Linked DNA regions of Homo sapiens. The protein of the gene in region 2 purifies or fractionates together with the protein of the main gene of each other region. This does not show direct contact. Each region holds a gene or a part of one and is shown on either strand. Other genes may lie near its edges.

Region 1 (7,029 bases), on a different chromosome or scaffold from region 2:
GAGCTCTCTTCCTTGTGAAATATTGAAGCAAAATTTTCTTTCTAAAAACAAATCACTTGATACTTTAGGCATTAAAACTTTGAAACACTGACTTTACTAAAACTTTGTCAAAAGGTTTAGTTTAAATAATAGAAAGCCGAGCTATTTTACACTGTATCTTAGCCAAAAGGCTGAGATGCTGTGAATATTTATTTTAAAAATTGGTATATAGCTGTATATACATACGCGCGCACACACACACACACACACACACACACACACACACACACACACACACACATTTATGCATACACACACAGCCCACTAATGGAAACAAGTGAAATAAACTTTCCATAAACTCTCCATATAATCACATAATACTTAGGAATGTTCAACATATTAGCAGTGGCTATTGCTCGTTATAGAATTAAGGCTGACTTAAAATGTTTTTATTTTTATCCTTAAATTTTATGTATTGAATAAGTTTTTAAAAGACAAGTCAGTAACTTCTAAAAAATTAGTTCTACTAAATTTTATTTATGCATTTTGGCACATATCAGGGGGTAGATTATGTACCCAAATTGCTTTTGGCATTTGATATGGTATGAGAGGAGCTTCTTAACATTAGGATTAATAGGTGATGTTTTCACCCCTTTCATGCTTTAAAGACAAAATATTAATACGTTATTTAAAAGTTTGCAAAAATGTTTTTAAGTCCGTTTTTCCATCATAAGAGAATTTCTCCTACTCTTTGTAAACCATCCTTTTTTTTTTTTTAAGGAGAATGGGGTCTTGTTATGTTGGCTGCTTTCTAACTTCTGGGCTCAAGTGATTCCCCTCACCTCAGCCACCCAAACACCACTGCACCCAGCATTTTGTCTTTTATCTTTGAATTATATTAATCATAAATCATTAATGTTATGAGTCAAATCAATAGCGTACATTTAAATGTTTCGTTTTTAACTTGTTCTCTTGACTACTTTTTTTCCTTTGATTTCTTGATTCTTGTAATGAACTGTTGAGTTAATATGAAAGTTAGTTTATTTTTTCTACAGGTCTCTGTTATATAAAAAATCTTTCCCATCTTGAATTTCTTTTTCATCTTTTAAAATATTACATAATTTTTTCTCTAACATATTAACAGGTCAACTGCAACTTGGCCTCTTGATCCACCAAAGGATGAGAAACAAGGGTGGAGACATGTGAGAATTAAACAGATGGGGAAAAATGCCAGTGGACAAACACACTACCTCTCATTATCTGGATTCGAACTTTATGGCACTGTAAATGGAGTATGTGAAGATCAGCTAGGTAAAGAGATGATACGAGGCTTTTCTAACTTACTAAAACAATTACTTTTGTAAAAAGTGATTTGGTTTTTATTTCTCCAATTTCTACCTGACAGGGAAAGCAGCTAAAGAAGCAGAAGCTAATCTTAGACGGCAGAGACGTCTAGTACGTTCCCAGGTTCTGAAATACATGGTTCCAGGAGCTCGTGTTATCAGAGGCCTGGATTGGAAATGGCGAGATCAGGATGGCAGCCCACAGGGAGAAGGCACTGTCACAGGAGAACTACACAATGGTGAGTAGGTGCTCAGCACTTTTGTGTAGAAAATGGGTAGTTAAATTTTTTCTTTTAAGATAATTTATAAATTGCATAAATGTATGAGCACTGTTTAGAAGAACTGTTGATACCACATTACAAATGGAAAAAAGGTAAAGAAAATAAGGGAAAATTTTAAGTTCTTGGGTTTTGACTAGAAACTTACTGGTAGTATTTTGGAAGTGATCAAGCCTAGTGTAAGTTGAGTATCTTCAAGACACACTTCCGGTTTTTTCCCCTAGTTTATTTTCAAGCTTACTGTGAGTTTTATTTTAATTTCTTATGTTTTTCTTTATCTTGTTAGTCTCACACCATAATTTTTATGGTATCATAAATCATATAGAAGAAAAAGGATTAACATTTTTACTGTTTTTTAATAATGCATGGAACAAGAAACATTGTCTCTTTATCTGTTAGTAGATTATTATTATTTCAAAGTGTTTCTTAGCCTACCTGCTTTTTGGGGAGGAGTTTATCATGTTTTCTAAATATTGCTATGTGAATCAAGTTTCTTTGATGCTGCACAGTTTAGCAAAGTCATCCACTTAATAAATTGCTATTAACTTTAAAGCAATTATAGTGGCTAATTATTTTCTTCAAACTATAAGGCTGACTTATTAGCAGATAATTTGCCTAAATGGCAGTGGGTTTGTTTTCATCAATTTTGTATCAGTTTTTGGCATTAAAAAAAGTAAAAATGTTTATATTCTCAACTTACACCACATATATATATCCACATATATGTGTGTGTATATATATGTATTTTTTTTTTTTTTTTTGAGACAGAGTCTCGCTCTTGTTGCCCAGGCTGGAGTGCAATGGCGCAATATCAGCTCACTGCAACCTCTGCTTCCCAGGTTCAAGCGATTCTACTGTCTCAGCCTCCTGACTAGCTAGGATTATAGGCATGGGCCACCATGCCTGGCTAATTTTGTATTTTTAGTAGAGACGGGGTTTCTCCATGTTGGTCAGGCTGGTCTTGAACTCCCGACCTCAGGTGATCCACCCACCTCGGCCTCCCAAAGAGCTGGGATTACAGGCGTGAGCCACCGCACGCGGCAACTTACACCACATATTTAAAGAGCTAGAATAAATGTGACGGTACTTACGAGAATGACTGACATTTAATTTCATGTTTTATGTGGTAAAGACATTTATTTATTCAAATAAACCCTTTGACTATATTGCTTTTAAGATTCTATTCCTTGAATTATTTTACTGCCAAATGTATTTATGTAGTATCATGCCCTAATTGCAAATCATTGTAATCAAAACAGGTTTACAGCGACCTAAAATTCATAAATACCAGTAATAGTTGAGATATCAACTATTATTGTTATACTGAGTTGAATAGTAGTGCCATTCAACTCAGAAAATTTCAAGTTTTCTTTTTAGGCATCTTGATGATACTTATTAAAAAGTTGTTATTCTATTTCCTGTAATTGTTTTGGCCTTGATGTATGTGACTTGATAAGAAGAGGCTAGTTAGAGATGTGTGAATGCAGTTCTTTTTTCTCAGGATGGAGTCAACTGAAGCAATTGCATAGGGAAATTAGAATCTTTTTTTTTTTCCCAAGATACAATGGCACAACAGTTTTAATACAACCACCAGTCTTCAAAAAATAATTTTAATACTTTGTGCCTGTACTAGCAGCATCTTGCACTGTGACATTCCTATACATACATAAGCATTTTATTGAAGTACAAATGTTAAAAGCAGAGTAACTTAAGCAATTGCCTATACAAAGGTAAATAGACACTGTGGGTTATTTTTCTTCTCGATTCATTTTTGCTGCATAGTAAGTTGCAATTACATGTCAGTATAATAATGTTACTGATCTATAAAATATATTTGAACCGTGAGGTATGGCACCTCCCTATGAGAGAGTGCTAACATGTACATCTGAATATTTTGAGTGTTTTTTGTTTGTTTGTTCGTTTTAGCTGCCACAGATGGGAAAAAAAAAAATCACCTAGCCTAGAAATCTCAGAGTTTAGCGTTCAAGAAAGGCCTATTTTTGCTAATCTGACAAATGTAGAAATTTAGTTTTGCCTAATCAACATGGCCATTCCCATCAAGTTATGCCTTTGAGTCTCTATGTCAGAGAGGGTTCTTAGCTTTCAAATACTTAAACCAACCATTTCTAATGATGGATAGTCATTACTGACTCTATTTTTTTTTTTTTTTGGTTTATCTTTTGGGTGTAGAAGGAGTTGAGAGAGTATGTTTTTTGGGCCAATTAATATAATACAAAAGTTACTTTTATTTGAGATTGGGCTATGTTTTTGAAACTTTTCCTTTTCTCACACATTTCTGTGTAGCAGAAGAGATAGTTAAATGTTGGTTCTTCAGAGATTATTTCAGCATACAGAAAAAAATAGAGGCAATTGAAAAATCTCATCTAAGCTACTTATGTAGATTTGGGGCAGTCACTTTTCCTTTCAAAGAACACATATGCAGATAATCCCCACAGGTAATTCAATATTATTTCCCTCTGAGTGCTATCATAAACATATGAACTTGGTGTAAGTGTGGGTGAGCATCTGGGTGTGTGGATGGGTGTGTATGTGATCTTGGGCCCCTTTTATGTATGGGTAAGAACTTTATAAAGGCTTGTTATACTTCTAAAAAAATGTTTTTTATGTCTTATGTTTTTCCCTGAAATAGTTAGCTTATAACACTAAAATAAGATTGTAAAATTTCTATTAATTTGCTTTTAATAGACAATTTTTTTTTTGCTTTTGGAAGTTAATTACCTTTTTAAAAAAAGAATATCATTTTTCTACTACAAGTAAATATATAGATTGAATATCATTATGCTCGTTAATTCTGTACATGTTATTAGCTTTAGCAGATAGTTCTAATAAAAGAGTTCAGTATGCTCTTTAAATTTTTTTTTAGAATTTTCTGTGTTTATTCAAATTTATTGAACTTAATTATTTAATATAAGAGAACCAAGGAACCACTGAACTTTGAGAACACAACCGAAATGCTAACTTTAGTGTTTTATTTGAACTAGTGACTAAAATTTCTATGGCAATATATGAATATTTTGAGAGGTTAGCCCAAATTGTAAGAAATTAATGGTAAGCTGGCATGTTTTTGTAGAAAAAAAATTTGACTACACATAATTATATTTAGCAGTTTTAAAACTTTTACCTAGATTCTGTTTACTTGCTGAAGTGGCAGTATTTTACCATGTATATCAATCTTTTAAAATTTCTTAAACAGTTCTTCCATTTAAGAAGTAACCAAGCCAGGTGCAGTGGCTCACATCTATAATCCCAGCTACTCCAGAGGCTGAGGTGGGAGGATCGTTTAAGCCCAGGAGTTCAAGATTAGCATGGGCAACGCAAGACCTCATCTCTAAAAATCAAATAATTTTAAAAATGAAATATAACCCAGTAGATTTAAACATGACCCTTACATTGCTTTTAAATGTCATAGACTGAATAGTTCAGAAATAAGGGAAATAAAAGGAAGAATTTTAAACATTTCCTGGAAACCTTGTATAGAGTACATATTTCTTGTCCTTAAAATATTTGTATCATGAGAGTTAAATAATATAGACTTTCAGATAGCTAGTCATATCGTCAAATAATTGAGTCCAAAAATTTACATATATTTTAGTGGGCAGACCTTGATTGACTATAGAAATTCAGAAAAGGACAGCACTGATGAAAAGCTGATCCCATATTGTGGAGCTACTGTCTGACACGCTCCTATCTGCTTTCTGCTGGGTCTCACAAACTCCTGTCCCTTTCCAGGCTGGATTGATGTCACCTGGGATGCTGGTGGCTCAAACTCTTACCGTATGGGCGCAGAAGGAAAATTTGACCTCAAGCTTGCACCAGGGTACGACCCTGATACAGTGGCATCACCCAAACCTGTTTCATCCACTGTTTCAGGCACAACGCAATCATGGAGCAGCTTGGTGAAAAACAACTGTCCAGACAAGACATCTGCTGCTGCAGGCTCCTCAAGTAGAAAAGGAAGCAGCAGTTCTGTGTGTAGCGTGGCCAGTAGCAGCGACATCAGCTTGGGTTCGACCAAAACGGAACGGAGATCAGAAATTGTAATGGAACACAGTATAGTTTCAGGAGCTGATGTCCATGAACCAATTGTTGTTCTTTCATCTGCTGAAAACGTCCCTCAAACAGAAGTAGGGTCATCTTCCAGTGCAAGCACCAGCACCTTAACAGCGGAAACGGGAAGTGAAAATGCTGAAAGGAAGTTAGGCCCTGATAGTTCTGTTCGTACTCCTGGGGAGTCTAGTGCAATATCCATGGGAATTGTCAGTGTTAGTTCTCCTGATGTTAGTTCAGTATCTGAATTAACTAATAAAGAAGCAGCTTCACAACGACCTCTTAGCTCTTCAGCAAGTAACAGACTGTCAGTGAGTTCTTTGTTGGCTGCTGGGGCCCCTATGAGCTCTAGTGCAAGTGTACCTAACCTGTCCTCAAGAGAAACATCTAGCTTGGAGAGTTTTGTAAGGAGAGTGGCAAACATAGCACGGACTAATGCCACGAACAACATGAATCTAAGCCGAAGCAGCAGTGATAACAACACTAATACTTTGGGGAGGAATGTGATGAGCACAGCAAGTAAGTGAGCTTTTCCTTCTGGAATCCGATGCTTTTTCCACTTGGAGGGATGCAAAATAGGGTCTCTTGTTCTGGCTGCAGTTTTTAACTAGATCATTAACCATGTTAGATAAAGCTACATCAAATTTAGCAGTTCAGGAATATGAAGTTCTCTAGAATCATAATATTTGCAGAATTCAGACTAGGTGTGATAAAGAACCTCTTATTTTAGAAGCATAAAACAGTACTTCTGATTTTCACTCCTTTATGATACATCATTAAGCAAAGTTGCATGAGGAAATAGATGACTATTAAATATTATCATAGTGCAGTGAAACCAAAGCATCATATAAGTATAGCTTTTGTTTAGACTCTACATTGATCTTAGCTTCTGAAAGTTAAATTCCAATTTAAGCTGCTAACAGGTCAAAGTAATTATATAATAGTGCTATAAAAAGAATTTTTAGTTGGATTTCAGTTGGGTTCCCAAAGTTGTTGCTTTTCAGGAACCATTTTATTATTAGTGTGTTTTATGACCTCACTCTTTAAAAAATAAAAAACTTGGTTTTTCTGAGGTTTCTACAATCTCACCTATTTGTACTGATTTGCTTCATTTTTGTCTTTAGCTTCTCCTCTTATGGGTGCTCAGAGTTTCCCTAATTTGACCACACCTGGTACTACATCAACAGTGACTATGTCAACATCCAGTGTTACTAGCAGCAGCAATGTAGCTACAGCAACAACAGTTTTATCAGTTGGTCAATCTTTAAGTAACACTTTAACCACCAGCCTCACATCAACTTCCAGTGAGAGTGACACAGGTCAGGAAGCAGAATATTCCTTATATGGTAAGTTGTAATTTA
Region 2 (7,029 bases):
AAATTCACCGTTTTGCAAGTGAACAACTCATTTGGCATTTAGTGCATTCACATTGTGTAACCACTACCTCTGTGTTGTTCCAGAACATTTTCATCATCCCAAAAGGAAACTATGTACCCATTAAGCAGTTACTGCCCCCTACCCCTACCCGCTAACCCTTGATAACTGCCAGTCTGCTTTTGGTGTCTGTGGATTTACCTATTCTGGATATTCATATAAATGGAATCTTTACATATCTGTGAGCTTTTATGTTGGGTGTGATTGTCTTTTAATTGCTTGTATGCCTTTGGAACAGTCTTAAAATCATTTTTTTTTTTTTTTTTTTTTTTTTCAGGGAGTAGTGTACTATGAATACTTGGACTACAAGGTGGTGTTATAGTACATGTAGGTTTATAGATGAAAATGAACTAGACTTCATTGTGACGGTTCTTAACCTCACAGTGAAGGTCACTAAACCTCACTAAAGGTCATAGAATCCTTTAGGAATCAGGGCTTCATTTCAACCCCCGGTTGCTTCAAGTCAGTGGATCTCAGGATAAGAACACCTGATTTGAAATATTTTCTTTCCTTGAAACACACAAGTTAGATGAATCAACATGTTTGTCTTTATGACATTATTTCTTCTTGGTCCTGCCTTTTTCTACATATCCTTACTACTTTTGACTAGACGACTAGCCATCCTTGTACCTCTTTGCATTTTATTTATTTTTTTGAGACAGGGTCGCGAGGCTGGAGTGCAGTGCTGCAATCATGGCTCACTGCAGCCTTGACTTCCTAAGCTCAAGCCATCCGCCCACCTCAGCCTCCTGGGTAGCTGGGACTACAGGCGCATACCACCACGCCTGGCAAATTTTTGTATTTTTTTTGGAGAGACGGGGTTTTACCTTGTTACCCAGGCTGGCATCTTATTCCTGTGCTCAAGTGATCCACCCACCTCAGCCTCCCAGAGTGCCAGGATTACAGGGGTAAGCCACTGGGTCCGGCCCATCTCTTTGCATTTTAATCACTGAGTTCAATTTAAAAGTGGAACAAGGCCAGGCACAGTGGCTCAGGTCTGTTAATCCCAGCACTTTGGGAGATTGAGTTGGGCGGGTCACCTGAGGTCGGGAGTTCGAGACCAGCCTGACCAACATGAAGAAACCCCGTCTCTACTAAAAATACAAAATTAGCCGGGCATGGTGGCACATGCCTGTAGTCCCAGCTACCTGGGAGGCTGAGGCAGGAGAATCGCTTGAACCTGGGAGGTGGAGGTTGCAGTGAGCCAAGACTGCACCATTGCACTGCAGCCTGGGCAACAAGAGCAAAACCCTGTCTCAAAAAAAAAAAAAAAAAGAAAAGAAAAGTGGAACAAAAACTTCTACCAATAGGACCAGTATTGGATTTGACGTTGTTTTATTTATAAAATGATTTGTCATTAAGTTGCTGTTTCTACCTGCAAAGTTTCTAGATTCTTAGGGGCAAGGGTTGATTGTATTTGGTTCTTGGTAATGTGGACTATGTCTTTCCTATTGGCAAATAATTTTTACTATTAACTCTACAATGTCATTCTGAACTGTTATACGTAAGGTTATAATTATAGGCCTGTTTCTATGGGATAGCCATATTCTGATGTGTAAACATAACTGAAATATGTTAAATACTTTTTTTAAACTTGTTTACATTGTGTTGGGTTAATTTAAAAAAAGGCTTGAGCAGTAAGACTAACAGAAGTTCACATGTACTCAAAATTAATCTTTACGTCCCTTTTCTGCCTGCCTTATGTTCCCCAGATTTCATTAGATACAGTGTATTTTGGGTTATTGATGTTAAGTGTTTTTTAAAAAATACATCTCTAAAGTAGTATATACACTGAGTATAAAATGTGAGACTTTTCCATTTAAAGTTGGAAAAAAATTGCAACCTCAGGTCAGCTTTGTAGCTGATAAACTAGGAATGAGGAAGATTCAGTTGTTGAGAGGGCAGATGTCAACTAACACATCAGCAGTATCGAGCAAACATATTGACATAGCTGTTGGGTGTTAAGTTTCACATAAGTCATATTATCTTATGTGGTGAGAGGATGTTGGGGACAGCTGTGCCAAAACCTGATATCAGTAGTAGAGCCTGAGGTTGAGAACCAGGGTGGTAAAGGTAGAGGTGTGAATGTAAATGTACAGTTGTCTCTGGAATGTCTGCAGTTGGTACTAGATGTTTTTAGGTACATCAGGTTTTTAGGGCGGTCATGTGAGCACTCACCATAGACTGCTTTTCTCACTGGGTAGACAATAATGTATCTAGAGAATAGAGCAGCACTACCTAATGCCCTGCTTTTGTTCTGCTATTGTATTGAATCAGTTGCCTTATGAAATTGCACTTCAATTTGTGTACATAGATACGTCCTTAAAAAGACACAGGGTTAGATAAGAACACCATATTAAATCTGTGCTGTAATGTGTATTCCTGAATCCTAGACTCATATATCCAGCTGCCTATTCAGCATCTTTCCTGGAGTGTTTAAAAACTCAAGCTCATTTCAAGCTCAGTAATGCTAAAACAGAACTGATCTCTCCTTCAAATCTATTTTTTCCCAGGCTCTCATCTTGGTTGATGGCAAATTTCTCATTCCATTGCTTGTGCCAAAAGCCTTGGCCCTCCTTGATTCTTCTTTCTCTTATGCCCCACTTCTATTTCTGAGAAGATTCTTTGGCTCTACCTTCAAAATATATCTGTACTCTGACCACTTCTCACTATTCTTGTCCAAACCATGATCTACCCTTGCCTTTGCCCTCCGTACAATCTGCTGTCATCAGAGGAGCTAATTCTTCTCAGAACCCTCTAGTGATCACCTGTTTTACTTGGATTAAAAGCCAGAGTCCCTCAAAAACTCTACAAGGCCATCTACATGCTCTGTATTGCACACTTCAGCTTCCCTCCATATACTTTTGACCCTTGAATAACACAGGTCTGAACTGTGCGCGTCCACTTATACGTGAGTTTTCTACCAGCTCTGCCACCCCTGAGACAGCAAGAATAATGCCTCTTCTTCCTCCTCCCCCTCCTCAGCCTACTCAAGGTGAAGATGATGATGATGAAGACCTTTATGATGAGCCACTTTGACTTAATGAGTTGGTAAATGTATTTTCTCTTCCTTATGATTTTCTTAATAACATTTTCTTTTCTCTAATGTATTACAAGAATACAGTGTATAATACATATACAAATATGTGTTCGACTGTTTATGCTATTAGTAAGGCTTCCGGTCAACAGTAGGCTATCAGTATTTTGGGGGGAGTTAAAAGTTATACATGGATTTTCTACTGTGTGGGAGATTGGTCCCCCTAATCTCCATGTTGTTCAAGGGCCAAATATAGTTTATCTCTGAACTAATCTGTTTTCCACCTTTTCCATTTCATTCCAGCCACTCTTGCCACCTTTTTTTTTTTTCCTATAAATAAGCCTCAAGCCTTTTACTTGCTGTTTGCTCTGCCTGGATTGCTCTCCACCTTCGCTTCTTTTCTCATGTATTGCCTTCTCAATGAGGTCCTCCATGACTGCCGTATCTAAAATTTCATCCCTGTCCATTATCCCTCCCCACAGCATTAATTTTCTTCATAACACTTCTAATATGCTTCATCATCTTGTTTATTATTTGTCTCTCTCTACTCTAGAATTTAAGCTTCCTGAGGGCCAGTAATTTTATGTTTTGTTCAAAGCTGTATCTTAGTATGTACAACAGTGCCTGCTACATACATACTAGGCACTCAGGTATTTTTATATCAATGAACGAATGAATATTTTTGGGAACTAGGGTCTGGGCAAACCTTTATCCTACTCCTCCTATGAATTTCTAGATTCTTTGCCTGCTTCCTAGCTCTCTATGTTTTTCAATAGTTGGGGCTCAACCCAGGAGAGCCAGTTTTACTTCTCACTGGTTGTCAGGAAGACTGAGGTAAGTAGTGGGTATGAAAGGGTCTTACAGGAAAGGGTATAGAGGCTTCAGTTTATCACCAGGCAGTCTATGGACATGAAAAGTCTAAAGTCAGGTTTATGTTTAATTTCTCTACCTCCCTACTTTCACTCATGGCAATATTTGTTTTTTCAAAAAAATCATTCTATGTGTTTGCTATAACTATCAAATGAGATTTTTACTTGAAATATTTTATTCAGTTGTCATTGGACCTGCTGCTTCCTAGTTGGCGTTTATCTTACTTCCTAAACAATAGCTGCATCTTTCTTAAGTTTAGGAGCTGAGATTTGGTTGGGGCTGTTGAAGGTATAGGGGGAAAAAAATCAAACTTAAGTAACAAGTTCACATTGAAACTATGTATACACATATATATGTATATATATATGTTTACACACATATGTATATATATATGTTTACACACACATATATGTATATATATTCACGTATACACACACACACACACACACACACACATTTTTTTTTTTTTTTTGAGACAGGATCTTGCTCTGTTGCCCATGCTGGAGTGCAGTGGTGCGATCACAGCTCACTGCAGCCTTGACCTCCTGGGCTTAAGCAGTCCTCCCACCTCAGCTTCCCTAGTAGCTGGGCGTACAGGTGTATACCACCATGCCCCGCCAATTTTAAAAATGATTTGTAGAGATGGGGTCTCTCTGTGTTGCCCAGGCTGGTTTCAGACTCCTGGACTCAAGTACTGGGACTGCAGTTGTGAGCCACCACCTGGCCTGAAACTGGAATTTTTATGCTGAAATACTCAGTTGCCCAATAGCAGTGGTATGAACAGCTTTCACTATAGGGAATATGTGAATCAGTAATGCCTCCCGGTGCTCTGAAGTTTTGGGGTGACGTGAAGTGCACATGCAGTGGTGTTCCCTGTTGAAAATCAATGACTTACGGACTGAACCAGAATCTCTTCTTTATCAAGTAGCAGGATGAAGTGGCATCATGAGGATTATAATTCTGATGGTTTCTGAGCAAAATTTGTCCCACTTTCAGAATTTTGACATGTCTGTAAAGACTTAGATGATTTTTATTGTTTTATTTTTTAATTAATTAACTAATTAACTTTTTTGAGGCAAGGTGGTCTCACTGTCTCCCAGGCTAGAGTGCAGTGGTGTGTGATCTTGGCTCACTTCAATCTCTGCCTCCTGGGCTCAAGCAATTCTCCTACCTCAGCCACCCAGGTAGATGGGACTACAGACGTGCACCACCACGCCTGGCTAATTTTGCATTTTTTGTAGAGATGAGGTTTCCCCTTGTTGCCCAGGCTGGTCTCAAACTCCTGGGTTCAAGCAGCCCGCCCGCCTCGGTCTCCCAAAGTGCTGGGATTACAGGTGTGAGCCACTGTGCCTGGTCTTACATGATTTTTAAAACATAGAACATGTATTGGTAACGTTTTCTTATATTAGTTGTCTGCAAAAATATTGTTATATTTAATCTATTATTTTCCCTTTTCTCATAACTTAATTGTGTTGAGAATCAATGTTTGAGGCAAATCCATTTGGATTCTAATTGTATTTGGGCCTCTTGCCAGAAATCCGTATAACGTGTCATATGGTGTCTGTCCACTCTAGAGTGCCAAGTGTAACTCTAGAAATATCTAAATATTTCCACAGTTTCTGGATGGGTCTGGATATGGTGGCTCAGTCCTGTAATCCCAGCACTGTGGGAGGTTGAGAAGAGGGGAGGATCGTTTCAGCCTAGGACTCTAAAACCAACCTGGGCAACTTGGCGAGACCTCGTCTCTATAAAAAATAAAAAAAATTAGCAGGACATGGTGGTGTTCCCATGTGGTCCCCACCTATGCAGGAGGCTGGGATGGGAGGAACACTTGCGCCCAGGCTGCAGCGGGCCATGATTGTGTCACTGCATTGCAGCCTGGGTGACAGAGCAAGACCATGTCTTAAAACTTGCATGGTATTAAATATGTCAGAAGGTATTTGTCCATTTGGTTTTACTTACACACCTTGTTTAAAAAAAAAAATAGCAAAGTGTAGGCGTATTACATTTTAAAATATTCTTTTCAATTTGTTTTGGTATTGATATTAAGAATTACGTATATAGATGGACATTTACAATTTGTCAGAGGTTTTTCTCAAGTAAATTATTAAATTAGTATTACTTTTTTCTCTGGAGAAACAAAACCGTTGCAAAATGTAATCTTCTATAATGATTTTTTTAAAAAAAGTTTCTACTGTTGAAATATGTGCCTGGTGTAATGAAAGGGAGGTTGTACAATAATCCAAACAAAATTAAATTAACTTCTGTGAAGGAAAAGTCATTTAGTTTTTGAGAGATTATATTCCTTTGAACTGGAATGATTTTAAAGTGATTTATATTACCAAGAAAATTACCATGTCAAAACGGAAAAGGAAATCCTTGCATTGGACACTGGTGATTTTGCCCATTTAAGACATCTTTGGGGTGACTTTTTAACTTGAGAGAAAACTCAGGGCATACAAACGATTGTGAAGAAAAAAATAGAAGAGGCTTCTATTCTCTAGTTCATTACTCCTTAGCTTTAAAAATTATTTCTTTCACAAGGATATTTTATTGATGACTTACCTGAAGGCACAAAACATTTGGTGTTTTTAAAAACACACCATCTGCTGGTCGCGGTGGCTCATGCCTGTAATCCCAGCACTTTGGGAGAGCGGGGCGGTCGGATCACTTGAGGTCAGGAGTTCAAGACCAGCCTGGCCAACATGGTGAAACCTCGTCTCTACTGAAAATACAAAAATTAGCTGGGTGTGGTGGCGGGCATCTGTAATCCCAGCTACTTGGGAGGCTGAGGCAGAAGAATCTCTTGGACCTGGGAGGCGGAGGTTGCAGTGAGCTGAGATCATGCCACCGCACTCCAGCCCGGGCAACAAAGTGAAACTCTGTCTCAAAATAAATAAATAAATAAAAACAAAAAAATAAAAACAGTATTGATGAAATAAGTTATAATGTCCAAATTTACATTTTTAACTTGCCCATTGACTTCCTTATAGGTTCATCTCCCTCTACCCCCTCTTTGGGCTTTTTGGGTGATTTGCATGACCAATATAAATAGAGTGGCAGGC

Evidence for each region. Proteins that work in one complex are often made in the same cells at the same time.
Region 1: the proteins of ZRANB1 (region 2) and HECTD1 purify together in Homo sapiens (affinity purification with mass spectrometry; 5 studies listed by BioGRID and IntAct, with this or other methods). This does not show direct contact.

The regions. Positions count from the first base shown.
Region 1 is NC_000014.9:31,127,770-31,134,798, reverse strand, and holds part of HECTD1 (E3 ubiquitin-protein ligase HECTD1), read left to right. Parts: intron 1-1,123; coding exon 1,124-1,290; intron 1,291-1,384; coding exon 1,385-1,561; intron 1,562-5,350; coding exon 5,351-6,187; intron 6,188-6,792; coding exon 6,793-7,014; intron 7,015-7,029. UniProt on the Homo sapiens protein: E3 ubiquitin-protein ligase which accepts ubiquitin from an E2 ubiquitin-conjugating enzyme in the form of a thioester and then directly transfers the ubiquitin to targeted substrates.
Region 2 is NC_000010.11:124,945,104-124,952,132, forward strand, and holds part of ZRANB1 (ubiquitin thioesterase ZRANB1), read left to right. Parts: intron 1-7,029. UniProt on the Homo sapiens protein: Ubiquitin thioesterase, which specifically hydrolyzes 'Lys-29'-linked and 'Lys-33'-linked diubiquitin. Also cleaves 'Lys-63'-linked chains, but with 40-fold less efficiency compared to 'Lys-29'-linked ones.